Linked DNA regions of Homo sapiens. The protein of the gene in region 1 interacts with the protein of each later gene in a biochemical or structural test. Each region holds a gene or a part of one and is shown in the gene's direction. Other genes may lie near its edges. The genes, in order: KDR, PDCL3, ANOS1, BTRC and COL18A1.

What was found.
Region 2: the proteins of KDR (region 1) and PDCL3 form a complex in vitro, tested with the Homo sapiens proteins (one study listed by BioGRID).
Region 3: the proteins of KDR (region 1) and ANOS1 interact in a biophysical measurement, tested with the Homo sapiens proteins (one study listed by IntAct).
Region 4: the proteins of KDR (region 1) and BTRC form a complex in vitro, tested with the Homo sapiens proteins (2 studies listed by BioGRID, with this or other methods).
Region 5: the proteins of KDR (region 1) and COL18A1 form a complex in vitro, tested with the Homo sapiens proteins (one study listed by BioGRID).

Annotation. Positions count from the first base shown.
Region 1 is NC_000004.12:55,076,244-55,081,915, reverse strand, and holds the end of KDR (vascular endothelial growth factor receptor 2 precursor), read left to right. Parts: intron 1-1,752; coding exon 1,753-1,975; 3' UTR 1,976-3,435; downstream 3,436-5,672. UniProt on the Homo sapiens protein: Tyrosine-protein kinase that acts as a cell-surface receptor for VEGFA, VEGFC and VEGFD. Plays an essential role in the regulation of angiogenesis, vascular development, vascular permeability, and embryonic hematopoiesis.
Region 2 is NC_000002.12:100,565,993-100,569,492, forward strand, and holds part of PDCL3 (phosducin-like protein 3), read left to right. Parts: intron 1-510; coding exon 511-637; intron 638-2,938; coding exon 2,939-3,029; intron 3,030-3,500. UniProt on the Homo sapiens protein: Acts as a chaperone for the angiogenic VEGF receptor KDR/VEGFR2, increasing its abundance by inhibiting its ubiquitination and degradation.
Region 3 is NC_000023.11:8,536,457-8,543,013, reverse strand, and holds part of ANOS1 (anosmin-1 isoform 1 precursor), read left to right. Parts: intron 1-3,255; coding exon 3,256-3,350; intron 3,351-6,071; coding exon 6,072-6,243; intron 6,244-6,557. UniProt on the Homo sapiens protein: Has a dual branch-promoting and guidance activity, which may play an important role in the patterning of mitral and tufted cell collaterals to the olfactory cortex. Chemoattractant for fetal olfactory epithelial cells.
Region 4 is NC_000010.11:101,527,389-101,533,945, forward strand, and holds part of BTRC (F-box/WD repeat-containing protein 1A), read left to right. Parts: intron 1-3,848; coding exon 3,849-3,945; intron 3,946-4,906; coding exon 4,907-5,044; intron 5,045-5,563; coding exon 5,564-5,682; intron 5,683-6,557. UniProt on the Homo sapiens protein: Substrate recognition component of a SCF (SKP1-CUL1-F-box protein) E3 ubiquitin-protein ligase complex which mediates the ubiquitination and subsequent proteasomal degradation of target proteins. Recognizes and binds to phosphorylated target proteins.
Region 5 is NC_000021.9:45,509,579-45,516,135, forward strand, and holds the end of COL18A1 (collagen alpha-1(XVIII) chain isoform 4 preproprotein), read left to right. Parts: coding exon 1-23; intron 24-485; coding exon 486-683; intron 684-1,532; coding exon 1,533-1,648; intron 1,649-2,609; coding exon 2,610-2,820; 3' UTR 2,821-4,142; downstream 4,143-6,557. Other genes in the region: SLC19A1 (reduced folate transporter), read right to left, coding at 6,080-6,557. UniProt on the Homo sapiens protein: Probably plays a major role in determining the retinal structure as well as in the closure of the neural tube.

The DNA of each region.
Region 1 (5,672 bases):
ATTTTTGGAAGGAACTTAGGACTTTCAGTGTAAGTGCAGAATTTTCCCTATGGGGTCTTTGTTGGTTGGAGAAATTAGCATCAATTTAACAAATAAAGAATGGAAACTAACCACACAATAAAATTAAGTGATAAATCTAAAAATAATCTGAAATAAATTAGAGAATTTGGTCAATTTTTATGAGAATTCATGAATACTAGGGAATTTCTGTGTATATTTACTGTGGTCAGTAATGGCTAAATGAAAAAGGTGATTGGATGTGATCCGTAAAGCTGTCAATATGATTACAATCTTTGTGGACTCTGAAGAATTTTTAAGTCTGTATACAAATGGGTGCATCTGTGCTTAAGAAGTATGATATATAAATAAGCCAATATCTATTTGTTTGAGACATTTAAATATTATTGTCTGAATTCGAAGTATTTCATTGTGAGAAAAGTATTAAAATTAGTTTTAAATATAATCTCCCTTCTATGGCTCAGTAGGAATTTGTAGGTGTCTTGAATACGTGTACGTTCTCTTAACATAACAAATCAATGAAAATCTATATTTATAAGAATAATAGAATAAGTGTAGTTATGTATTTGCTGGAGTTTATTTGCTAGAGTATTCTTACCTAAAGGTAAGAATAGAGGAGGTTTTGATCTGCTTATAATCTTTTATATAAAATGGGAATACTCATGGGTTTTTGAATAATGCTCATACCAAAAAGAAAACAAACAAAAAAAACCCCAACATATTAAAAGGTGCCATTGTGCTATTTTATTGTTTTCTTTAAGGCCCAAGGTAAGAAATTGTGAAAGTCAATGATATGTTTCATTCATTGATTCAAAAAATGTTTATTCGGCAAGTATCATGTGCAGAGCACCATGCCATTGCTTGAGACACCTACATTAGTTTTGTTGGGGTTGAATTGAAAGAAAAAATTGTATTTCTCATTATTTGAAGTAACTTTTAAACTATGTATAAACACGAGTTACTAAAATTCCCTTTTGCAGTTTTAACATGAAGAAGTTGGGGAAAACACCTATTACCGGGAAAAAACACCTTAGAATGGCTTGTGAAAGTGTAAATCCTGAAGTTTTAGATCAACACAGCCTGCATTTCTAGGCTTTGACATGATTACCGTCTGTCAGGATTCCATGCCATTGAAAACATTTTCTAGTTGCTGCTGAGTGACAGGGGTTCTCAGTCCTTCCAAGGAATGTGGTTTTGATGAGTAAAAAGCAGCGTTTGATATGTCTGGCTTGACTGCACACATGCTTCAAGTTATTAAAGTTTAAAGTTGCTCAAGAGCTTTATTACAACCATACACATGCCCCGTAATTCCCAAATTGCCACAATAGGAAAAGCACAAGTGAAATTTAAGAACATCCCAATTTCCTTGAATATCATGCAAGTGGCCCTTTGGCGCCTGTCACTGTATACAAATTTGTCAATCTGCGAGGCCATAAACATGTTCCATCAGTTGGGGCCTTTGCATAACTCGAGAGAACTGCCTTTCATCTCATTTGAGGCTTGAAAGACTTGGACCTGAGTAAGAGGACTTATCTGCAACTACTAATTCATGCGAGTACCTGAAAATAGACCTTGTCCCTGTAAACCTGCTATGCTGATTAACAACTGGGAGAGATACGGGGCTGCGGTCTCCAGGGAGATGGCAGCCATATGGAGTTGGGAATGGGGTGAGGGTAAAAAGCAAAAGAATTGTCTTCTCTCTGCCAACTCCTTTGTTTGCCATTTCTTCTGCAGTGGAATGGTGCCCAGCAAAAGCAGGGAGTCTGTGGCATCTGAAGGCTCAAACCAGACAAGCGGCTACCAGTCCGGATATCACTCCGATGACACAGACACCACCGTGTACTCCAGTGAGGAAGCAGAACTTTTAAAGCTGATAGAGATTGGAGTGCAAACCGGTAGCACAGCCCAGATTCTCCAGCCTGACTCGGGGACCACACTGAGCTCTCCTCCTGTTTAAAAGGAAGCATCCACACCCCCAACTCCTGGACATCACATGAGAGGTGCTGCTCAGATTTTCAAGTGTTGTTCTTTCCACCAGCAGGAAGTAGCCGCATTTGATTTTCATTTCGACAACAGAAAAAGGACCTCGGACTGCAGGGAGCCAGTCTTCTAGGCATATCCTGGAAGAGGCTTGTGACCCAAGAATGTGTCTGTGTCTTCTCCCAGTGTTGACCTGATCCTCTTTTTCATTCATTTAAAAAGCATTTATCATGCCCCCTGCTGCGGGTCTCACCATGGGTTTAGAACAAAGACGTTCAAGAAATGGCCCCATCCTCAAAGAAGTAGCAGTACCTGGGGAGCTGACACTTCTGTAAAACTAGAAGATAAACCAGGCAATGTAAGTGTTCGAGGTGTTGAAGATGGGAAGGATTTGCAGGGCTGAGTCTATCCAAGAGGCTTTGTTTAGGACGTGGGTCCCAAGCCAAGCCTTAAGTGTGGAATTCGGATTGATAGAAAGGAAGACTAACGTTACCTTGCTTTGGAGAGTACTGGAGCCTGCAAATGCATTGTGTTTGCTCTGGTGGAGGTGGGCATGGGGTCTGTTCTGAAATGTAAAGGGTTCAGACGGGGTTTCTGGTTTTAGAAGGTTGCGTGTTCTTCGAGTTGGGCTAAAGTAGAGTTCGTTGTGCTGTTTCTGACTCCTAATGAGAGTTCCTTCCAGACCGTTACGTGTCTCCTGGCCAAGCCCCAGGAAGGAAATGATGCAGCTCTGGCTCCTTGTCTCCCAGGCTGATCCTTTATTCAGAATACCACAAAGAAAGGACATTCAGCTCAAGGCTCCCTGCCGTGTTGAAGAGTTCTGACTGCACAAACCAGCTTCTGGTTTCTTCTGGAATGAATACCCTCATATCTGTCCTGATGTGATATGTCTGAGACTGAATGCGGGAGGTTCAATGTGAAGCTGTGTGTGGTGTCAAAGTTTCAGGAAGGATTTTACCCTTTTGTTCTTCCCCCTGTCCCCAACCCACTCTCACCCCGCAACCCATCAGTATTTTAGTTATTTGGCCTCTACTCCAGTAAACCTGATTGGGTTTGTTCACTCTCTGAATGATTATTAGCCAGACTTCAAAATTATTTTATAGCCCAAATTATAACATCTATTGTATTATTTAGACTTTTAACATATAGAGCTATTTCTACTGATTTTTGCCCTTGTTCTGTCCTTTTTTTCAAAAAAGAAAATGTGTTTTTTGTTTGGTACCATAGTGTGAAATGCTGGGAACAATGACTATAAGACATGCTATGGCACATATATTTATAGTCTGTTTATGTAGAAACAAATGTAATATATTAAAGCCTTATATATAATGAACTTTGTACTATTCACATTTTGTATCAGTATTATGTAGCATAACAAAGGTCATAATGCTTTCAGCAATTGATGTCATTTTATTAAAGAACATTGAAAAACTTGAAGGAATCCCTTTGCAAGGTTGCATTACTGTACCCATCATTTCTAAAATGGAAGAGGGGGTGGCTGGGCACAGTGGCCGACACCTAAAAACCCAGCACTTTGGGGGGCCAAGGTGGGAGGATCGCTTGAGCCCAGGAGTTCAAGACCAGTCTGGCCAACATGGTCAGATTCCATCTCAAAGAAAAAAGGTAAAAATAAAATAAAATGGAGAAGAAGGAATCAGACATAATTTCCATGTGGTTGTTTTACATTTTTACTGGTTTTCTTACTCTTCTTATAAGGGATATTTTCATAAACTGATTATATATTTTACAAACCAATAAATGTATTTGTAGTACAAAGTATGAGGGTATAATATCACCACAACTATTTTGAGGATAAGTATGTCTGGTTTAAAGTTTAACTGCTTCTTCCCTCTTCTTCTTCATTACAAAGAATTCACACACACACACACACACACACACACACACACACACACGCCACGCATACACCCCCCAACACCCACACCTCCTCCCAGCCCCCCCACACCCACACATCCAACCCCCCATACTCACACTCACACCCCCTCACAGTCACACCCACCCCCACACACCTACACACCCACCAGCACACACATACCCACACACAGATCCACCCACACACCCACACCCACCCACATACACACACCCCCCCACATGCACACCCCCACACACACCCACCCCCCACACACCCATCCACACACCCACACATCCAACACCCCCGCACTCACCCACACCCCACACACACCCACACACAACCCACCCCCCACAGTCACAACCCCCCTCACATTCCCCCATACACGTCCTACACACCCACCACACACCACCCCCACACATCCACACTCCCACACACATCCCTCCACACACACCCCCCAACACTTTTTCATATTATATTCTAAGCACTTTAGAGATGTTAAAACAGAGATATGTGATTCCTTGGCCCTCCAGTGAACTCCATATCTGTTAGAATAGCCAATCATGAAACTCAGGGGGTGAAAGACCCTGAGACAAGTGATCAGACCCATGGCAGTGCAGGGAGGCATGGACCAGATTTACAGTCTCTAATAATATTCTACTCTATACTTACAGAGTCAGAACATAAGATCCATTATTGCCATTTTGAATGATTACCATCACCCAAATTCAGTAGGTGGAGTTATTTAATAAATTATTGGCCCAAATAAGTGACCTTATTTTTTGTGATTTTTTAATACAAGATTTTGAAATGTTTATCTAGTCAAATATGCCTCTCCCTATTTTTAAAAAATGGCTCCTAGGTTTTAAAAAATTTTATTAGAGAAGGTCTTTCCAATTCTAAACCCCCAATTCTAAATTTTCTTCTTTTATTGCATTTAAATCCATTTGGGATTATTTGCATATATGGAGCAAAGTGAAATAGGAGTCTAACTTTATTCTTTTTTTCAAGCAGATTATCAATCATGGCAGCACTGTTTATTAAATATCCCTGTTTTCCCTGTGGTTGGCAACAACCCTATTGTATCATTGTTCAAAACTAGCACGTCACTGAGACGTTCTGCACAGCTTTGTGATGAAGGGTGGGGCTGTTGCTGTTGTGTGTTCTTGGGGATGGCACTTCCAGATTGGGGATGAGAACATTAGGGTCTCCTGAAAGACACTGGTAAACTGTGGGTCAGGCTGGCCTTGTAGAGAGTTCCTCATCTGTTCCTGTTGTTACAGTCTCTTTCAGTAAATGAATGGAAGAGTCTAGGTTATTTGGGATGGAGAAGACCTTGTAGGAAAACACAGGATTTTCTTCACTTTAAGAAAAAGAGAAGATTTTCTTTTTCATAAGTGGCTCTGGCATTGCTTCCAATGCCAGAAATTTGGATTCAGCTGAAACTTCACACTTTATTAAGAAATGCTTTCAGCACCTCAGGCAGAATGATTAGGAGGTGAGGTTTGGCCTTCTTCCTCTCTTTTCTGTCTTCCATGCCTCTTGTTCTTAGCATTTTTTTTTCTCCTCATTTGCCCCTGTATTGAAGAAAAGTCTGTGGTTTCTAAAAGTGCTTCCTGCAGGGTCTTATTTTCAAAGCTTTCCTTGGAGGCTTTTGGTGTGTTTTAGGTGGGGCTACTGTTTCTCCCTCTGGCTTCTGCCCTCCCTCCTTCTCTCCCTTGATCCACTTCTGTCCTTCTCCCTCCCTTTAAACCCTCGTCTCCTCATCTTCCATTTCTCTCTCCACTCACCTTCTTCTCTGCACCCC
Region 2 (3,500 bases), on another chromosome or scaffold:
TCCCGGGTTTATGCCATTCTCCTGCCTCAGCCTCCCAAGTAGCTGGGACTACAGGTGCCCGCCACCACGCTCGGCTAATTTTTTGTATTTTCAGTAGAGACGGGGTTTCACCGTGTTAGTCAGGATGGTCTCTATCTCCTGACCTCGTGATCCGCCTGCCTCAGCCTCCCAAAGTGCTGGGATTACAGGCGTGAGCCACTGTGCCCGGCACTCTCAGTCATTATTAAAAATATTGAACACATGCCAAGTCAGAGCCTTGGTATCCGTATTGATACTGATCTGCACTCCCTATCCTAATTTTTACCCCAAGAATAGCTCCTCCATTCAGGGAGGGGTAGACAGGAAAAACAAAACGGGGGCTATGGATCTTTTGACACTTTCTCAGAAATAGTTCACAGACTGGTGTGCATTCCTCCCTTCCTGTCACTTTTCCCATTTGGCCCCTTGCCCAACGTGGCACCCTACATACTAGACTTAGCACTCATGGTAACCTTGGTCCCGCTCTTCTAGGACCCCAACGCAGACACTGAATGGAATGACATCTTACGCAAAAAGGGTATCTTACCCCCCAAGGAAAGTCTGAAAGAATTGGAAGAGGAGGCAGAAGAGGAGCAGCGCATCCTCCAGCAGTCAGTGGGTGAGTTCACTCGCTTTCCTCTGCACCTGTCTGGGTTAGGAGATGGCTCCCTAAGCCTCTGACTGCCCTGCCAGGAGACAGGTTGGAGTGCCAGCATGGACACTCTGTGTCTGTGGGACCTCAGACAAAACACAGGGCGTCTCTCACCTTCACCTTCCTGAGCCATAGACTTAGGGGACTTCAGATATGTCCCACAAGTCCTTGTCCATGTCACATGAGCACTGAAGAAAATACTTCTTTCTGCTTTCTGGTCTGTGATTCCCTTTGATAATGTCATGGAAATTTGTTCAAGGTTTTTAGTACTTGTATTTTCCTGAGCATATACTTTATTTTCTGTGGTTTCATTGAGGATATTAACTAAAAATTGCTTCATTTGGGGAGGCATAAGATGTTTGCAATGTGTGGGAGTCTGAGGGGGGTTTTCTCAAAGGCAGTTGTACTGTCTGAATTGGAGTCCCTTGGAGTGCTGGTAACCCCACCCACCTAGTGTTTACTGAAGCAGTCTCTGGAATGAGGCCCAGGAATCTGCATTTTAAACAAGTGCCTTAAAGGATTCTGATGCGTGTCATAGTTTGAGAAGCACTGGTCCCAGGGACTAGTACTTTTGTCCTCTGTTGACACATTAGAGCTAATTTAGAGAAGGATTTATTAGAAAGTATCCAGCGAGTGCTTACTGCATGATTATCATTGTCAGGTGCTTTTCTGGGGTTGGGGATTTAGCTATGCATAAGCCAGAGACAATTCTCTGCCCTCAGAGAACCAACATTCAAGTGGGGGAGACAGACAATAAACAATAAAGAAAATAAGGCAGTAAAAGGGACTAGAAAGGGTTGGAGGAGAAGCAGGCTCAGAGAGGGCCTCACTGAGATGACATTTGCATGGACCTGAAGGAGGTGAAGCTGGCATTTGGGTAAAGACCTGAAGGAGCTGAAGAACACATTTGAATAGACCTGAGGGAGTTGTTGAGACCTGAAGGAGGTGAAGAAGACATCTGGGTATTCCTGAAGGGGGTGACGTGAGCGAGTGAAATATGGGCCCTGGCATGGCTGGGAATCCCTGAGGAGCTGGAGGCGCTGGGGGAGAGAGTTCAGAGCAGCCTCAGCAGACCCAGAAGCTTCTAGTAAGGACCTTGGCCTTTACACCTAATGAGGCAGGAAGCTTTTGGATGTTTAAACAGAAGAGTGACATTTTCTCTTTTTTGTTTTTTTTTTGAGATGGAGTCTCGCTCTCTTACCCAGGCTGGACTGCAGTGGCGCAATCTTGGCTCACTGCAACCTCCGCCTCCCAGGTTCAAGCGATTCTCCTGCGTCAGCCTCCCGAGTAGCTGGGATTACAGACATGTGCCACCACGCCTAGGTAATTTTTTGTAGCGATGAGGTTTCACCATGTTGGCCAGGCTGGTCTCAAACTCCTGACCTCTAGTGATCCGCCCACCTCAGCCTCCCAAAGAGCTGGGATTATAGGCGTGAGCCACTGCACCCAGCCAAGGGATGCATTAACTTGGAGATCCCTATTAGACAAATAGCCACATTAAGAGGGCCCTTGGGTATGTTTTTCTCTACATTAGAGAAGTCTGGGCTGGAGGCCTATACTTTGGGAGTTGTCAGCATATTGATAGCACTGAAAGCCATGAGATTAGATGCAATCACCGAGGGAGTGGGTGTGGATAAAGAAGAAAAGTAGTCAAAGGTTTGAGCCTGGGGAATTTTAATCAGCAAAGGGTTCAACAGTAGGGCGGCTGGCTCACTCCTGTAATCCCAGCACTTTGAGATGGGCAGATCACTTGAGGTCAGAAGGTTCAAGACCAGCTTGGCCAACATGGTGAAACCCTGTCTCTATTAATGATACAAAAATTAGCTGGGTGTGGTGGCACACGCCTGTAATCCCAGCTACTCAGGAGGCTGAGGCAGGAGAATTGCTTGAATCTGGGAGGCGGAGGTTCTCAGTGAGTCAAGATCGCACCATTGCACTCCAGCCTGGATGACAAGAGTGAAACTCTGTCTCCAAAAAAAGGAAAATAAGCGGGGCAGGGTGAGGCGGAATAGGAGAAGAGAGGGGAGGAGGATCTGAGGGCTTGGGTAAAATGTTGTCAGTCAATAAATTGGGATTACAGGTGTGAGCCACCATGCCTGGCCTCTCAGCTTCTAATGTAGTGTGGTGCCTTAAGTAATTTTTGTTTAGGTAGGCTAAGGATCTGGTGTTGTGTGCATATCTTTAGGAGAAAAGAGAGGGGAAAAAAGAAAAATACATGTTCGTTCATCTTTTTAAATTTTTGCTTTTTGCCAATGTAACCAAATTCAGTGAAAACATATGAAGATATGACTTTGGAAGAGCTGGAGGATCATGAAGACGAGTTTAATGAGGAGGATGAACGTGCTATTGAAATGTACAGGTAAGCGCCACCCAGAGGGGCTGTTTGTTTTTTTGTTGTTGTTTGTTTTGTTTTGGTTTTTTTTTTGGCGTGGCAATAAAATGTGTGGGCTGAGCATGGTGACTCATACCTGTAGTCCCAACACTTTGGGAGGCTGAGGCAGGCAGATCGCTTGAGCTCAGAAGTTTGAGACCAGCCTGTGAAACCCCGTCTCTATAAATAATACAAAAACTAGCTGGGTGTGGTGGTGAACGGCTATAGTTCCAGCTACTCAGGAGCCCTGGAAGTGGAGGTTGCAGTGAGCTGAGACTGTGCCACTGCACTCCAGCCTGTGTGACAGAGCCAAACTCTGTCTCAAAAAATAAAATGAAATGTGTGTCCTTCAAAAAATTAATTTTCAGCTGAAACATCTAGGAGCGACTGCAATTAAATAATATTGTGAATTTTAGCAAACTGATCTTAGATTTTTGCCATAAGACCAATAAATAAACC
Region 3 (6,557 bases), on another chromosome or scaffold:
TGAAGTAACCACAGAATCAAACAAAACATTGGGAACGAGAGGAGTGTCTGCATGAGATGAATATGTAGAGGCAGTGGAGACCTGGAAGCCAGGCTGAGTATTAGTGTCTTTATTCAGAGGGCAGAGAAAAGCCATTCAATGACTCAAAGCCAACCTTGAGATGGGGATATTACCCTTAATTATTTGGGTGGAAACGAATACAATCACAAAAGTCCTTAAAAGTAGAATAGGGAAGCAGAGTGCAAGAATCAGAGAGATGGCATGGTGCGAAGGACTCAGCCCAGTGTTGTTGACTTTGAAGCTGGTGGAAGGGCACCACCAGCCAAAGAATTCCAGAAGCCTCTAGAAACCTGAAAAGTCATGAAAATACATTCTTCCCTGGAGCCTCCAGAAAGGAGTACAGGCCTGCCTTGATTTTAGACCAGTGACACCCATTTCAGACCTCCAGAAGAGAAGACATTTATATTGTTTTAAGCATCTACACTCAAGGTAATTTGTCACAGCAGCTGTAGAAAACCAGTACATGAACTGATTTAAAACACACCAAACCTATTGCATTGGCTGAATTAGTATCCTTATTCTCAGATACAGGGAATGAGGCTCACTGAGGCTGTTGGAGTTGCTTGCTGAAGCCCACCTTCCTCGAAGGTTATGTGTGGGGTCAAAATTCTGCATCCTACAGCCAGAAAGAAAAGTGTGAATGCAAGGAGCAGTTGAGGTGCAGAAATCAACATGGTAGCTACAGCAAAGTTGAGTTTGGAAAGCCTCCACATGGGAGAGGAAGGAGGGAGCATCAGCTCTTCAAGGGACTAGCTCAGGTGAAAGTAGACATTTGGGAGCTGTCAGCAGAAAAATTTTTCAAACCATGGGAATCAATGAAGTGATTCATGGAGGTGACACAGAGAGAAGATGAAAGTGCAGTGAACTCAGACATGGCGAGATTTAGGGCTAACAAAAGGGAGGGAACCCAAAAGGAGTGCCCCATGTGTCACTCTTGATGCTGCCTCCTATGAAAATATAATTGCATTGTAAAATATGTAAAGGATTTTTAGGATATGGAGGATCCCCAGGGCAGCCAAGCCTCCTTGTATTGCTGTAATGTAGCCACCCCAAGTCCCCTGACTGCTCTTCACCAAAGACCTTCAGTCATCCGTCATGCTCCGTTCTCATGTCAGCACTTTGGCACGTGCTGTGTATTCCCTGCTGGTAGAGCATTTAAGCTGCCCAATATTGTAACCATGGCCATCTTCAGCTGTTTAAATTTAAATTAATTAAAATGAAACAGAATAAAGAATTAAATTCCTCTGTTAAACAGAGGACATGTGAAATGCTTTATAGGCACAGGTGACTAGTGTTTACCACAGACAGAACATTTCCATCACACCCGCCAGTTCTGTTGGACAGGACTGGCTGAGAACACCCTCCCACAGGTCTCTGCAGTGCCACTACCCACTGCTACACCTTCTTCAAGTCCTGACTCAGAATTGAACACACGCCAGCCGCCTTATATAAAATCAGCACTTTTTGTCAATCCACCCTACTGCCCTTACCTTCTGGTTTTTTTTTTGTTTTATTTTTTTGTTTTTTTGTTTTTGGGGGGGGGGTGGTGGGAGACGGAGTTTTGCTCTTGTTGCCCAGGCTGGAGTGCAGTGGCGTGATCTCGGCTCACTGAAACATCCGCCTTCCGGTTTCAAGAGATTCTCTGGCCTCAGCCTCCCGAGTAGCTGGGATTACAGGCGCCTGCCACCACGCCTGGCTAATTTTTGTATTGTTAGTAGAGAGGGGGTTTCACCATGTTGGCCAGGCTGGTCTCAAACTCCTGACCTAGTGATCTGCCTGCCTCGGCCTCCCAAAGTGCTGGGATTACAGGCGTGAACCACCGTGCCCAGCCACCTTCTGTATTTATATGTGGACTTACTACGTTCTAACATAATATCTATCTTATCTATGTATTGTATTTATTCTCTGTTATTATTGGCCCCATTACTATGTAAAATTCAGGAGGGCAGCAGCCACTCCTGTGTGATTATTTCATTGCTGTTGAATGGAAGAACATGAACACACTCAGTGATTGACTTCAGCGTTGTGCATAGCCTATAATTCTTTTTTTAAAAAATAAACTCTTGATGTCTGCTATGTAAAAATTAAAACCTCTAGTACATGATTTCTCTTTTAGCTAAATGCCCGGAGTGCCCACTTTTATATCTGTTTGCTTTCTCGGATTTAAAGTTCTTCTTTTCTGGTTCCAAAGTGCTCAAAGCGAAGTTCCCACTAGATCAACCCAATTTCATCAAAGAGTTTTCTCCTCTGAAAACTCCCATCAAACACTTGGCATGATGTTGGGGGACAAGATGTTAAATCACCTGCAAAATGGTGCCATTTGGTGCCATTTCACACTCCTCGGACACACTGGGGTGATTAATAAACCCGAGACTGTCAAGGTCTGCTTTCCCACACTCATTGAGTTGCTTGCCGCTATTTTATCTTTTTTCCCCCCACTTTATTGTCCAAAGTAAAGAAATGTACAGAAAATATTCCTCTTGCCCTGGGAATAAACGTGTTCAAAGGGTCAGTCTTCTGGCCTGTGTTTGAGAACACCAAGTCATATTTCAGTAGGGATCAGCCATACAGAAATGCCACGATGCGCTTGGTTAAGGGAGAGTGGGAAGCATACGTCCCTATCCTTTGGACAAAAGAACTTCTTTATGGCAATACATAACAGGAAATAAACGTGGATAGCCAATTCTGCAAGTGTGAAGGGAATGTTTTTGTTCTTGTGTGGATTCAATAGTATCTCATCTTTATCAAAAAAAAAGGTAGGATTGAGAAACTTCTGATGATTCTCTTTTGCAACAGGAATTACGAGAGCTGTTGCTAGGTGTTGCCTTTCATTGTAGGGCTTTGCTTACTGTAAAAACCATGGCTAGGTTATTCTCAAGACATCTTTGGAATCATTTTGCTATGAATTTACTAATTTTTTTTTCTACTTAGTGCTTGCACTTCAACACAGGTTTTCCCTTGGCAGTATATTACTTTTTTCCCTTACTTTGTTCTTAATGATTAAGTATTCAGAATTACTAATTATTATAATTATTAAGTAATCAGAATCTCACCTCCTTTGGCTCACTGTGCATTTATTGGTCACCTGTAGAGTTTCATTTCCTCTCCTTTTCTCCTCTCAAGTTCAAGAACCCCAGGCTACCTGGAATGTAACATCCAGCCTATTATTTTTGTTTGCGTGTTTTGGCATTATAGATCCCACTGTCAACCGATATCATGTGCGGTGGTTTCCTGAAGCGTGTGCCCACAACAGAACAACCGGATCAGAGGCATCATCTGGCATGACCCACGTAAGGACATGATCTCTAGGCCAACTTGATCTGTGAACATAATTAGACAGGAGGATGTACAAACTAGACAGGTCAAACAGATAACTCATTCCCACAAATCAGCTATGGAGTAATGACTTGATGGAAGTGGAAAGCAGAATGGTCATTATATTCACTCATTCTTTTATCCATTCACACCATTGCACTGGGAGCTTACTCTGTTATCCACATGGAGCAAAACCTAAAGTGCAGAGACTAAAGACACAGTTCTTAAAGAACTCCCATATTTCAGGGGGAAATATGTCTGAGTATGTGTGTGCTTCATCTTAACTGGACAAAAGCTTTGAATTATTTTCTGAATTTTGACATGTCACCGTGATCTAAAGGTGTAATGGTACAAGTGGATTTCTATGTGACTCTATCATTGAGCACCATGTCCCTAACTGCCATCAGCTCAGTTAGTGAAATAATCTCCCTGTCCTGTATAGCATGCACCAATATTTTGACTTTCAACTTTAAGAGAACATTAAACTCTCTGAGGATAGCAACTCTGTCAATATTGCCCAAAATGTTATTCCAAATATTTTGGGGTTCATTCATGAATTATAGATTAGAATCAACAAACTAACACAAAATATTTAAGAGGTCATTTTATTATACAGTGTATAATACACTTTGATGGCAGTTTATATGTGATACCTCAGGACAGTTTAAAAAATCCAAAAACATGGCCCCAAACATAGAATGTTTTGGTTTGTGATATGTAACTAGAATATTTTTGTTTTGAACATTTTCTAAAGCAAGCACGATATTTTAAGAACCATACCTGCTGGCATAATTTTAAGAGAGTGAGATAAAACAAGTCACTGGATTTTCAGAAATACACAGATTCTTTTTCTTTTTTACTGGACTTAATTTGTCTCATGTTCAGCAATGTTTCTCCTTGTATTTATCCTTAAATTAGCTCCAATGTTTGTGACCTTCAGTAAAATAATTAAACAGACATTCTAAATAAGGAAGTCGATTTGAAAAGCAGAGAAAGCAATAAACAGAAGCTGGAATTATTAATATTTTTGTGGGCAGAGGGGTGAGGTTTTTGTTTTACTTATATGTGTGTGCCTCAGAACCTTACAGAACTGGGCTTATGTCAATGCAATTCCCCAATCCTAGGCTTATCATCTTTAGGAACTCTGAAAGTGGTAACAACTATTTGCTGAGCAGATGTAATGTATCTGGTAGAAATAAAAATCAAACTCCTGAAAAATTATCCTTCTAGGGGTTTAGAACTTATCTGTATTTAGTTTTAAACCTTTAGATCCAATTATTATAATTTGTTTTTATGCTACAATGGAGCATCCACTAATTCACTTACTGCTGCAGATGTCTGTCTCCTATGCAATATGAAAACAATCTTGAAATATCTGTGAAACAGGATCCTTAATAGCTAACCTTGGATTCCAGTATAGTCCCATGTAAAGAGCAGATTTATTTCCAAAGAAAAGCAATTCAGACTCCCAAAGAAACATGGTGGCCTTGGCTTGGGCTTGGGTTGGGCTTGGGTTGGTCTTGCGTTGTCCAGATTGATTTGTTTCCTATTCACTGTTTGTGCTAACTGGCTGCAGAGTTGGGTGCACCCCATCTCCTGTCACCATCTGGATGAAGGGCCAGCACACCTGGAGGTCACTCCCGGTCTCTTTTGAACATTCAGTGCTCTGTCACCTGCAGCCACTTCCACTCCTCACTTAAGTAAATCACTCAAGCCTCAGTTTTGATTTTAATTCTTGTCTCATGTTTTTCCCGTCAACGCTGCTGCTTTCTAGCAAGATCCCCTACCCATCATCCAATGAGTGCCAGAGATATTCCATCTGTACTTTTTTTCCTCTCTTAAAAAATAATTAAACACACACACACACACACACACACACACACACACACGTAAAAACCATGGAGTCTCACTATGTTGACCAAGCTGGTCACAAACTCCTGAGTTCAAGCGATCCTCCCACCTCAGCCTCTCGAGTAGCTAGGACTATGACACGAGTCACCATGCCCAGCTATCCATCTGCACTTTTATACATATACATTAAGAATTGGTAAATACAAAACAGAATGGATAAGTGCCATTTAGCCAAATATGAAAGAAACAGAGATACACACCTGTTATCACAGGAAATGTCATCTTTTGACATTATCATAAAGTTATATTCTTAGCCCGTGACTCCTTACCATTTAGCCTCTTTCTTTTATTTATATTTAATCACAACATTATGGCAGAAAACAGTAACAGCACTCCAAAAAAGGGAAAAATTATATTGCTAAAGAATATCATCATTTTTTAACAGAAAAACTTACATATAAACTAATTCTATGTCTCAGAGAAGCCTGCGTTAGTTTTTTTTAACTGAAAAAAGTTAGATTTGTATTTACAGCTTTACACCACTACCTGCACTGCTACCAACTCAAAAATGCTGATTGCGACCTTAGAAGTAGCCTGCTTTGATGAGGAATTATTATGATACTGTTTAATTCTAGAAGGCATATCCCGCAGCCATGGGAGTGTTTCACAATTGTCATTAATCAAAATGTGGACAGTATGTGCTTTGTACTTTTTATAAAAGCCATATTGCACACACTATATAGGAAAACATCCTTGTTGGATGGAATATGATTTCAATTCTTGCCAGTGTTTTTTAATCCCTAATGAGATTTATTGCTAGCATAATTCTCTTTCTCTTGCTCTAGGAAAATTACATAATTCTTCAAGATCTGTCATTTTCCTGCAAGTATAAGGTGACTGTCCAACCAATACGGCCAAAAAGTCACTCCAAGGCAGAAGCTGTTTTCTTCACTACTCCACCATGCTCTGCTCTTAAGGGGAAGAGCCACAAGCCTGTTGGCTGCCTGGGCGAAGCAGGTACGTTTTCACCTGAAGGACTTCTACATCTAGGTCTACGGTGTCAGCAGCGCTTTGCAAACCTTGTCAAACTGCGTTTCACAAGACCGTGAAAACCAAAAGTGCCTCTCTTTCTAAGTTGTGTTATGATGGCCCAATGTGGAGGGAAGAGATGTAGGAATGAATGTGTTATTTTAAAGCCTAACAGGCTTGGAAAGATGTCCTTTGATAGTAATGTTATCCCTTTGGAAATGAAGGCAAACATTTAGATACCGCTTGTGTTTTGGGAAAGTTTGATATAATTATTTCATTATTTTCCCACCCCTTTGCTGCGT
Region 4 (6,557 bases), on another chromosome or scaffold:
CTGTTTAAATTTTTCTCTCAAATTGAATTAAAGGAACAAAAAAACTAGGCAATTTTTAGGCTGTGTAACAAAGAATATTGTTGGCCGGGTGGGGTGGCTCACGCCTGTAATCCCAACAGTTTTGGAGGCCAAGGCAAGAGGATCGTTTGAGCCCAGGAGTTTGATACCAGGCTGGGCAACATATTGAGACCTCATCTCTACAAAAAAATCAAAAAATTAGCTGGGCCTGGTGGCGCATGCCTGTAATCCCAGCCACTCAGGAGGCTAAGGTGGGAGGATGGCTTGAGTCTGGGAAGTTGAGGCTGCAGTGAGCTGTGGTCATGCCACTGCACTCCAGCCTGGGCAACAGAGCAAGACCCTGTCTCTTTCTCTGTCTCTCTCTCTCTCTCTCTCTCTCTCTCTCACATACACACACACACACACACACACACAAAAGAATATTATTACTACTTCTCAAATATGTTTTTTAATTCTTATTTCGCTACATAGAAAAATAGAAATCTTTCATAACCTACTTCATACTTTGGAAATAAACTCTTTAATAGTACAACAAAGCAAATAAAAATGGAGTTATATGGTATTCGGGGTCCATCATTTTGCTAAGAGTGCTGGGACCAGCCTTGGGGATACAGCAGGCAGTTGCTTACATGAGAAAATTTTAGGGCAGCTGAGAAGATTTCTGTATCCCTCAGAAAAAAAGAATCTCGTCTCCAAATAACTCCTGAAATTTCAGTTAAGGAGATTCATTCCTTTAGCTATAAAGGTTCTGTTACCTGTTAAAATACATTGTGTTCCCATTTGGACTGTAAATGACAGTAAACCTTCATCATAAATTGGGAGTTTACTGAGTCCTTTTTTGAAGGCAGAAAGATCAAGAAGTAAGTGGGCAGTTCTTGGCAGATGGATGTGAAAATGCCAAAGGTAAAAGGCTCCACAGTTTTGCTTGGGATTGGCACTAAATGGCAAGATCTTTTATGTTAGTTACAAAGAAAAAACAATCATTGAGAAGATGGCTTTTGAGCCTTTCTAAAGGGTAGGTGAAGTAATCCAGGATCCAGCACTAATTACCACTTTTTTCCCCTATCTCTTTATCCACAGAAACCCATTCCCGCTCTTTTGAGTATCCTTCAGAGTTCTGACTATATCCCCTTGTCTTTGGGCATGTTTATCCTCTTAATCCCATGATAAACCCATGAAATTCCAAATACTTATACATCCCGTGTCAACTTCCTCCATTATTCCCTCGACTTTCTTGTTGCTGCTTCTGTTTTTACATGTTGACTTTATTCCTGTGTCAGTTTTCTTCCCTTTTTTAAAAAAAAATTTACTCCATCAGTTTCTCATTTTCTTCTTTCAAGTTGTCTTACCAAGCCTAATACGTCAATAAAGTCTTTCTGTGTTATACTTTTCCCCATATGCTAGCTTTGAAAGGTTCTTCCATTTCTACTAACCAAAAATAGTAAGTAAATACAGTTTTCTAATAAAGCTTTTATCTCTAAGTTTTAACTTGGTATTTGATGTTGTATTTTATATCTAGATGGATTTGACAGTCTTCCCCTGGGACATGAACTCTGTAGTTTTCTCTCTTGAATAATACTGAATATGCTGTCTGCTCAGTAATGGTAACTCTTAAAAGTATAATAAAAGACCACTTGGGAAAAGTCAATTTTCTTAATCAGCAGATCACATTTTATGATAACATTCTGAATTTAATATTTAACGTTTATCATGTACTCACATTCTTGTAGGTACTAGGCATTTCACATAGAAGTAGTCCCTGTTTTCAAAGATCTTCCATCATAAAAGGTTTTGACTTAAAACATAAAGACAGAAGCCAGTTTTCAGTACCTAGCCACCTCTTTCTGTAACACTTTGATTTGAAGAAATTCAGATACTTTACCAAGACATGGTAAATGCAGTGAGGTGGAAAACAAGATCAGAAGCTTATGTGAGTTCTCTTTCCTTAGAATGTAGATAGTATCATTGCATAGGAAGAAAGTCTTGGAGTGCTAGAGATTAAAAGAAGACAGGAATCTCAGGAATGGTGGGCATTGAGAAACAATAAAGTAGTTAAGAATGTGGGTGGGCTCAGGAGTCAGACTTAAAATCTTCACATTCAAAATCTATTATTTGCCTGCAAAGTGTTTGTAGAATAATATTGTACAGAGAAATGTACCATTAATCTGGAATTCTTTCATAACGCATCTTGTTTCCCCTTTTGTTTATGCTGGTGTATCATGTTTCATTAATCCCCCTTTTTATAAGTATTATTTTCACTTCTCTATTTCAGATTTTCTTTTCTGTATTAACACAGAAGTTAGAGCCATCTACCTTCCTGATAGGAAATTTTCTCAACTAATTTTCAGGGTATATAACAGGGAGAGGGCAGGGGAGAAACACTCCTGGAGACACCAAACAATTAATTATATTGTAATGGAGCTATAGAGGGAGGAGTGGATGACTGGCCCAGAGAAAACATGATTTCTCTGGTGCCAGGATTACACTCAGAGGCATTTCTGCCTCTCTCCACTTTGCAAGGCACGGTGCCAGTGAGAACAGCAGTTAGTACACCCATAGTGGGGTTTACTAGCTTCCACACCGTGTTTGGTGGGTTCTTAACTTCCGGATGAGGAATTAAATTTTTTACCCAGCAGGAAGTGATTGCCATTTACTGATTTTTTTTTTGTAGCAAAGATCTAGCTTGGGATACGAGTATTCCAGAGATGTGCTGTCATAAGGAAGGAGATACTAACAAATGTTGCTCACTGGAATCAGGGAAGGCAGTTAAGTACATGTGTATGTACACAGCCAGGAACACACCTGTGAAAGTCAGTTTCATGCCTTAGACTTGATAGCAGTGCTCTTAGGCATTTCTTTTTTTTCTTCTTCCCTAGCTGCTGCTGGACACACCTGTGATCCTTTTGTTTTCTGATGAAATGAACTGAATTGCTCCTTTCAAAGCATAGTTGCACTGATTAGCAGCAGCCTGGGTGACTGAGCAGCCACCACACCTTACCCTGTACAAATAAAGACCTAGCAAAAGTGATCTCCATGCCAGAGGCATTGCTGCTGTCTACAATGCTGGGGACCACTGACACAGTAAAAGGGAAAAAAAAAAAAACCTATAGGGCATGTGCTAGTTCAAAGGTAATAGTTACCATTACTAACAAAATTTCCAAAAGATGAGGCCAGTGAATCTAAGCAGTAGTCTTAATAGAGCAATAGATGAATTCTGATTGTACATATTCCATTTGTTTACTGATATTATAATATTCCTAAAGGCTTGGTACTCCGATGTTCTACACTGGAAATAATCATGTTTTACCCAAAAGCAAATCAGTGTTGGTCAGATTCTTTAGAGCCCAGAAGGTTACTCTTTGACATGGGACTCCTGAAATCAGGCTTACCTTTGCTCCTCCGCAGACAGCTATGGAGAGTATATGGAATGGTAACCGTGAAAACACTTTCAAAATATATGAAGTTCCTTATAAATATATAATGTCGGCCGGGTGTGATGGCTCACGCCTGTAATCCCAGCACTTTGGGAGGCCAAGCAGGCGGGTCATTTGAGGCCAGGAGTTCAAGACCAGCCTGACCAACATGGTGAAACCCCATCTCTACTAAAATACAAAAATTAGCCAGCATGGTGGCAGATGACTGTAATCACAGCTACTCAGGAGGCTGAGGCAGGAGAATCACTTGAACCCAGGAAGCGGAGGTTGCAGTGAGCCAACATCACACTGCTGCACTCCAGCCTGGGCAACAGAGCGAGACTCTGTCTCAAAATATATATGTATTTAAATATATAATGTCATGATTTTCACTGGGAAATATTTGTTATTTTTTAGGGGACAGTATTTATTCAAAAACAAACCTCCTGACGGGAATGCTCCTCCCAACTCTTTTTATAGAGCACTTTATCCTAAAATTATACAAGACATTGAGGTAAGAATCTATGTATTTTGGGGTATTGCCCAAGGGCACAGAATTATCAGCATTCTTCAGTCACAGTATGGTTACAGCAAGCCCATTAAGGTTTATTGACATGAGTTGGGAATCAATCTCTTAGCTGGCCATGGTGGCTCACACCTGTAATCCCAGCATTTTTGGAGGCTGAGGTCAGGAGTTTGAGACCAGCCTGGCTAACATGGTGAGACCCCTGTCTCTACTAAAAATACAAAAATTAGCCAGGCATGGTGGCACACACCTGTAATTCCAGCTACTCAGGAGGCTGAGATAGGAGAATCACTTGAACCTGGGAGGCACATGTTGCAGTGAGCCAAGATCGCACCACTGCACTCCCTCCTGAACGACAGAGCGAGACTCCATCAAAAAAAAAGAAAAGGAAAAGAAAATCAATCTCTTTACAGGCGAGTAGGGTAGGTAAAATAAATTGCTAGGCAAAATTTTAAAGCTTTAAAAAATGGTTTACTAATAAGTAGATGAGAGAGTTAAAGAGATTGATCCCTTCATACATAGCAGTGTGACTGGTAAACTTGTACTCATAAGCTCATATTTAAATATCTTCTGAATTGAACCTCCTTAGAAGTTCATCAGTAGCAATCAGTAGCAATGGCCATCACATATGTAAGAGCACTGAGTGTATAACCTCACGTAGTTCGTAGCTTTTCTTCTCTTGATGAGTAGTCTCTTTCCACCAGATTTATTATTTAATTGAACAAATTATAGGCAGGGAAGTTCTAGGAAACAACCTTTAATTACCTTGCAAAAGGAAGAATATTTTATAAATATAGATAGTAGCCTTTTAAAGACATTTTTTAGTTTTCCCTAAGTTGTGTATATCCCATAGAGTAAAGCATTGAGCCATTGATTGTCATTAAAGCCTAAAAAGAGTTTGATTCTAGGTGTTTCCTAACACTGCCTCTTTCCCATTCCTTCTTCTCAGACAATAGAATCTAATTGGAGATGTGGAAGACATAGTTTACAGAGAATTCACTGCCGAAGTGAAACAAGCAAAGGAGTTTACTGTTTACAGTATGATGATCAGAAAATAGTAAGCGGCCTTCGAGACAACACAATCAAGGTGAGGTCTATTCAGTTGTAGAAAGGTAGCAGAGGGAGCAAGAGTGACCACATTCATAGCGCAGTCTAAAGCATAAACTCTAAGCATTATTTCTAGAAAGTAAGTGAAGATTTTAGATTGTTTCCAGTCCCAAAGCCAAAATCATTTCCTTAAAGGACAGACATCAGCTTCCCCACTATACAAACGGGTAGTCCTAGGGTTAAATTCTCTTCTTGAAATGCACTGAATGGGCTGTTACTCTTTTGGCCATCACATAATTATAGACTACCCTGTTCCTTAATGAAAAGGATAAAAGTTTGCATTAGTACTGAAGCTATATGTGTGTGTGTGTGTGTGTGTGTGTGTGTGTGTGTGTGTGCGCGTGTGCGCGCGCGCGCGCTTAGCTATACCTATAGAAAATGCATTCCACACTACTCTGGGCTTTGATTATTTTGGGGGATCAGACACGTAATAGGACCAACAAGTCTCCACAGCACCCCATCATCACATTGATCAAAAGGATCTTATTTGCCATCCTAGATCTGGGATAAAAACACATTGGAATGCAAGCGAATTCTCACAGGCCATACAGGTTCAGTCCTCTGTCTCCAGTATGATGAGAGAGTGATCATAACAGGATCATCGGATTCCACGGTCAGGTAGAAAATTTCAAATGCTTTTTTGAACTCTGAAATATCAGCTCTGCTCTGTTCTTTGTCATAGATAGTAATTTTGTATATATCGGCACAGTTCTGAAACTAAAGAAGAATAAACCACCAGGTCCCCATCATTTCTGTCAGTCTAGAACTAGAAAACTTGATTTAGAAATGCTTGAGGTAAGTTTACATTTTCGCACATTGAAGAAACTACACATTCTATTTTAATTTGGAGGATCATCTATTACAGAAACTTTTCTTATCCTTATGGTAAACTTTGCATTCCTTACAAAAACCACCTCACGGGGGAATGATATGAATGCAATGAAGCCTTCCTTTCAGGTAGTGGTAACTGTAGTGCAGGTCTGTATTATCTCCTTTGAAACATGTACAGGTGAGCTGTGCTCTCTTTGCCAGCCCCTCCCCTGCCATCCCTGCAGTTTTTAATTGCAAGCTTCACTCAGGTAGGGGCCCTCAATTTCCAGAGGCATTAGTGATTTGATGACACAGCCATTATACTGCTGGAGTCCAGGATAGCTTGAGTTCTGGGTACCAGCAGCACTGCTGGGAACCTCTGTTAGGAATTTTGCCGTAAGCTAAAGGATTTAGCAAACATAATGCATCAAAAGTAACTTTAAAAAAAAAATAGACCTAGGAAAAAAGCGGTTAAGTGCATTGTTAGATACTCTGAAGTTAAATGTTTACCATTCCAAGTTATCCTCTGTGAATAGAAAAGACGGTTCCTGTTTTTTGTCTTTTGACTTAAAGGCATAGCAAGGCATAGCAAACTTGGCCCTTGTAGTTACTGACATTTAACATTTATTGGTGCTTGTGGAGTGAGTGCCCCACAGAATCTAAAACACTGCAGGTGCTAACAT
Region 5 (6,557 bases), on another chromosome or scaffold:
GCCACCGCGACTTCCAGCCGGTGGTGAGTGCCCCCCCAAAGTGGGCTTGGCTCCATCTAGCCCCTCGGCTCTCGGCAGCAGAAGAGGGCCCAGCCCCTGCAGAGCTGCTGGGGGTCCCAGGCTTCGGCCATGGGTGGGGGTCTGGCGGCTCAGGGCCACTCAGGGCGGCTTGGCTGGCCCTGGGACTTGCCCTCTGGTGGCCAAGCAGTGGTCATGAAAGTCCAGCCGCTGTCACATCCTTGAGGAACCGGCGTACCTCCGCCTACAGCGGCAGCTGGGGGCACCCACGTGGCCCGGGGCTGCTCTGACCTGGCAGCGTATGGGGGCTGCTGCCTGGGCCCCTCAGTGTGTCACTTGCGCGCCTCCCGCTCAGCGCCCCTCGGCCGTGCCTGTCCACACAGGTGCGGGGCCGGGGTGGTGCGCCCGGGGCCTGGGTGCAGGGGGCAGCGTGGGACACAGCCCGTGACGCGCCCCTCTCCCCGCAGCTCCACCTGGTTGCGCTCAACAGCCCCCTGTCAGGCGGCATGCGGGGCATCCGCGGGGCCGACTTCCAGTGCTTCCAGCAGGCGCGGGCCGTGGGGCTGGCGGGCACCTTCCGCGCCTTCCTGTCCTCGCGCCTGCAGGACCTGTACAGCATCGTGCGCCGTGCCGACCGCGCAGCCGTGCCCATCGTCAACCTCAAGGTGGGTCAGTCCAGTCCTGAGGGCGCGGGCTCCTCGGCCCCCACTTGACCTCTGGGGTGAACTCCCAGCGGGGAGCTCCCCTCTAGGGCCTCTGGAGGCCACCATGTTACAGACACTGGCGCCTAGGCTGGCGACTTCAGGGCAGGCTCCGGGTGGGTCACACCCCTCCAGGCTCAGGCCAGGCCTCTGCATCCCTGGGCACTGCCACGTCCCCCAGGGCATCCCATGAGGCCCCCCCGTGGCCCCCTGACCCCCCGCTCCCCCGGCAGTGCCCCTCAGAGGGTCCCATGCTGCTGGACCAAGTGTCCACACAGGTGATAGGGCTCACATACAAGCCTGGAATCAGGAACCGTCCTTTGGGCCTCTAGTGCCATGCGGGCTGGTGGCCCCTCTGCCACAGCACCCATGTGGCTTTATTCTGTGGCCCCTTTTCGTGCACTGGGCTGTGGCTTCTGGGTGCCCCGGGGAGCACCCACATTCCCCAGAACCAACAGCAGAGGGGTCAGAGACCCAGGGCTGGGAGCAGGCGGCTGTGGCCTGGCGTTAGGGGACAGGGTCCCCTGCCTTAGCCAAGGCCTCTTGGGGTCTGCAGAGGCTGCCTGGCCAGGCCTGGCTCCCCCACGCTTGTTCCCTGGCAGGACATGCCCAGGGGCTGCAGAACCCCACCCCCCAAAAAAACACACACCCACAACACCCCACATACACCCCCAAACACCCCCCACACCCCACACACACAACACACCCCCCCCCCACACATCCACACCCCACATCCACACACCCCCCCACAAACACCCACACCCATCCACACCCCCACACACCACACACACATACACACGGTTTCTCTTCCAGGACGAGCTGCTGTTTCCCAGCTGGGAGGCTCTGTTCTCAGGCTCTGAGGGTCCGCTGAAGCCCGGGGCACGCATCTTCTCCTTTGACGGCAAGGACGTCCTGAGGCACCCCACCTGGTAGGTTCCCAGTGCCGTGTGAGCAGCTCTGAGAGCCCCAGCCAGGGAAGGCGGGCGGGCGGGCTCCTATCTGCAGTTTCCCCCCGAGTTTTTGGACAAATCTTATACATGCTCATTACTTTAAAATTACAAAATCCAAAAGAGCATTGAGAAAAATGAGAACTGCTCTGAGAAGTCATCATTAGCAATGCGTTTGAGAGCCAGGTAGTTGTAAGAAGGCCCCGAAGGTGCCCCCGGCCCTCTGCTCATGGCGGATAGACTCCATGTCTCCCGGATGTCACCAAGCCTGTGGTCAGCCATGTAAGCAGCGCAGCGAGTTTATTCACCGAGAATAAACTCCTCAAAGGGCAACACGGAGTCCGAGCATGTGTGCCCTTAAAATGTTGACAGAAATTTCCAGGGTATCTAGAAGAACGCTTCGTCCCAAATGTCGCTGTGCCCTCCCCACGTGAGCGCCGCGATTCTTCCAACACTCATGCATTTAGGGGTGTCTCGGGGTGCCACACAGCGTGTCCCCAGCAGTGCCTGGCCATCTGCTGTAACGGAGATGCACCTGCCAAGGGTCTCTGACAGGAGTGCTGTGGGCAGGGCTGGGCCCCAGGGAAGGCCTGAAAGCCAGGAGCCCGGGAGGCGGAGCTGGTTCCTAGCGAGGCAGCCACAGGAAGCCTCTGCTCAGCAGGCATGAGGGCCAGGTTCACCCAGCCAGGCCAAGCCCTGGCCCCTCTCCCCTCTGCCGTGGGTGTGTCTGGCAGAAGCAGCATGGGGGGCAGTCTGGGAGATGCAGCCCCCTCCACAGGCAGCCAGCAGGGAGGCCATGTGGCCCTCCAGGTTGTGGGAGCCTCTGCAGCCCCCTGGTAACCCCAGGGCTGGCCTCCTGCCTCCACCTTTCCTGCCCGGGGAGCGGCCTCTGCCCTAAGCAGAGCAGGTCTGGGTTTGACTGACGGCCCGGCGCGTCTTACAGGCCCCAGAAGAGCGTGTGGCATGGCTCGGACCCCAACGGGCGCAGGCTGACCGAGAGCTACTGTGAGACGTGGCGGACGGAGGCTCCCTCGGCCACGGGCCAGGCCTCCTCGCTGCTGGGGGGCAGGCTCCTGGGGCAGAGTGCCGCGAGCTGCCATCACGCCTACATCGTGCTCTGCATTGAGAACAGCTTCATGACTGCCTCCAAGTAGCCACCGCCTGGATGCGGATGGCCGGAGAGGACCGGCGGCTCGGAGGAAGCCCCCACCGTGGGCAGGGAGCGGCCGGCCAGCCCCTGGCCCCAGGACCTGGCTGCCATACTTTCCTGTATAGTTCACGTTTCATGTAATCCTCAAGAAATAAAAGGAAGCCAAAGAGTGTATTTTTTTAAAAGTTTAAAACAGAAGCCTGATGCTGACATTCACCTGCCCCAACTCTCCCCTGACCTGTGAGCCCAGCTGGGTCAGGCAGGGTGCAGTATCATGCCCTGTGCAACCTCTTGGCCTGATCAGACCACGGCTCGATTTCTCCAGGATTTCCTGCTTTGGGAAGCCGTGCTCGCCCCAGCAGGTGCTGACTTCATCTCCCACCTAGCAGCACCGTTCTGTGCACAAAACCCAGACCTGTTAGCAGACAGGCCCCGTGAGGCAATGGGAGCTGAGGCCACACTCAGCACAAGGCCATCTGGGCTCCTCCAGGGTGTGTGCTCGCCCTGCGGTAGATGGGAGGGAGGCTCAGGTCCCTGGGGCTAGGGGGAGCCCCTTCTGCTCAGCTCTGGGCCATTCTCCACAGCAACCCCAGGCTGAAGCAGGTTCCCAAGCTCAGAGGCGCACTGTGACCCCCAGCTCCGGCCTGTCCTCCAACACCAAGCACAGCAGCCTGGGGCTGGCCTCCCAAATGAGCCATGAGATGATACATCCAAAGCAGACAGCTCCACCCTGGCCGAGTCCAAGCTGGGAGATTCAAGGGACCCATGAGTTGGGGTCTGGCAGCCTCCCATCCAGGGCCCCCATCTCATGCCCCTGGCTGGGACGTGGCTCAGCCAGCACTTGTCCAGCTGAGCGCCAGGATGGAACACGGCCACATCAAAGAGGCTGAGGCTGGCACAGGACATGCGGTAGCCAGCACACAGGGCAGTGAGGGAGGGCTGTCATCTGTGCACTGCCCATGGACAGGCTGGCTCCAGATGCAGGGCAGTCATTGGCTGTCTCCTAGGAAACCCATATCCTTACCCTCCTTGGGACTGAAGGGGAACCCCGGGGTGCCCACAGGCCGCCCTGCGGGTGAACAAAGCAGCCACGAGGTGCAACAAGGTCCTCTGTCAGTCACAGCCACCCCTGAGATCCGGCAACATCAACCCGAGTCATTCGTTCTGTGGAGGGACAAGTGGACTCAGGGCAGCGCCAGGCTGACCACAGCACAGCCAACACGCACCTGCCTCAGGACTGCGACGAAACCGGTGGGGCTGGTTCTGTAATTGTGTGTGATGTGAAGCCAATTCAGACAGGCAAATAAAAGTGACCTTTTACACTGACTCTTGGTTTGCAAGCAGCCTTCACTGTCACAGGAAGGACACAATTCTCCAAAAGGAGTTCTCAGGAGTCTTTTATCCCTGGACTGCCCCACTGGCAGATCCCGAGTGTGCACAGGCACGCACGGTTACATGGGGTATGCATGCATGGCCATACACAGGCGTGCAGTTGTACACAGGTGTGCAGGAGCATCCATAGTGTGCACAGGTACACAGGCATGCACGGGTGTGTGGACACACACCAACACTCTTAGGTCTCTCCTCACAGCAGGACCTGACTTGCTCCCAGCAACACTACATCCTGACAGCCATCCCTGTCCTGGTGGACGGGTGAGTGCAGGACTCAGAGGCAGGCAGGCAGTGGGTGCAGTGAGCAGGCTGCGGAGGGAGCAGGCCCTCAGGTTGGGGAGGCGCTGGGAGGAGGATTCTGATGGCGGTGTGGGCCTCCCCAGTGACGCTCTAGCCCATGGCACAGGCCCAGCCCACCTCCACCCATCACATCCTGCTAGATCTACGAGCCCAGGAAATGGCTGGTGCAGACCCCCCCCCAAGCAGGGTCCCCAGGGTGGCCATGACAGAGCCCCTGGATGCACCTGGGACCATGGCCCTGTCTGACTGGCACCATCCACTGACTCGGGCCATCTTCCACGTGCAGCCTCTGCCTCAACCCAGGGTACCCCAAGATGCCTGCTCCCCTGAGCCACCTCGGGAGACCCCTGGGTCCAGCAGCTCCAGCAGCCCCTCCCCAGCCAGAGATTCTCTCCCCAGCTCTCCGTGCTGAGCAGCCAGCCATTCACCTGGGGCCGCTGAGATGTGGCAGAGGCCCCACAGGATAGGGCCGTTGACTAGGGTTGTGGGGGTGCTCAGCTCATGGGCACCAAGGCCCTGCGTGGGCTGGAGGCGGGAGAAGGCTGGGACGCCTCTCCTGGCCTCCTCACTGACTGCTGACCCTCAACCCCCAGGCCAGGCCGGCCCTGAATCAGAAGCCCTGCGCACACTCACTTAAGTGTGTTTAATGTATGTGGGAAGAGTATTCACATCACATCAGATGGTCCCGCACCTGTGGGCAAGGCACTAGCGCTCCTTAGACCCTGAGGCCGCTGGGACGTACTTCCCCAGCGCCCACCACAAAGGCAGCCCCCCCAAGGCTGCCCAGCCCAGGCAAGCCTGGCACATACCAAGGCCAGCACGTCCGCGGTGACCGGGACCAGTCCCCTCCGGGCTGGCACAAGTGTGGGAGCAGCTGAGGACCCGCAGGTCAGGATGGACACACTTCAGAAGGACAGACAGGACCATGGAGGGCTGCCCTTAGGGTGGGAGAGAGGAACCAGCTCCGAGGACCAGAGCCGCTGCTCCCCTCTGATGACAATGTGTCTGCCGCCAACCTGAGATGGCTTTTCCACAGAGACAGAGAAGCCACATGCAGTTCTTCATTCTACGTCAGTTAAAAAAAAAAAAAGCATCTTTCAAAAAAGCAAGAGCACCAAGGATGACCAGCAATGTCACAGCTCAGCTACACCTGAGGGTCCCGGCTCCCACCCTGCCCTAGAGGGCTCACAACTCCTGTGGGGCCAGTGTCCCCTGAGCTGGTATCCAAGAGGCCACTTCACTAGCCCTGGGGGGCAGAAAGGATTTGTCTCAAGCCCCCCAAGGGGCATGAGCCAGTGAGGCCTGGTGGACGCAGAAGCCCACCACCCACCTCTTCCAGCAACAAAGCCCGCGGGGCACAGTGCAGGGACAGCATGGCCAGGCAGCTGCCCTGAGTGTCGCCAGCACGCTGTGGCCACCGCCAGAGTGCGGCACAGGGCAGGGGGAATCCTAGGGGGCCTGCTAGCAGGATAAGCGGAGGCCCCCATTGCTAAGGCAGGCGGCCCTCGAGGCAGGGGTCGTGGGGATGCACTGAGGGCCGCCTGCAAAGTTACCACAGGGGCGCCCGAGAGTCACTGGTTCACATTCTGAACACCGTCGCTTGGAAGACACTGCAAACCCAGCTTGCTGACACCAGGAGGATGGACAGCCAGCTGGGGACAAGTCTCATCTGCAGCCTCAGGGCCTGAGGCTTGGGCGGAGCACAGAGTGCAGGGGGAAGGGGTTGTCACTGGGCTCAGGAATTCAGCTGCCTGCGGGGCCGGGGCCTGGGCCAGGTATGGGTCGCTCTGTCTCTGCTCCAGGGAGGCTGGCCCCACAGCCCCCAGGCTGTCTTCTGGGGAAAGCGGCGGGCTCTGGGCTGGCTGCAGGCCTCCGAGGCCCTTGTCCTGCACGCTCAGTGCCTGTGCTGCCTTCTCCTCCGCGGCACTCCTCAGGCCCTGGGCCGGGGGCTGCCGCGGGTGGTGGCCCCGCTGGCAGTGCCGCAGGCCATCCAGCATGGCCCCCAAGAAGTAGATGATGGACAGGATCAGGAAGTACACGGAGTATAAC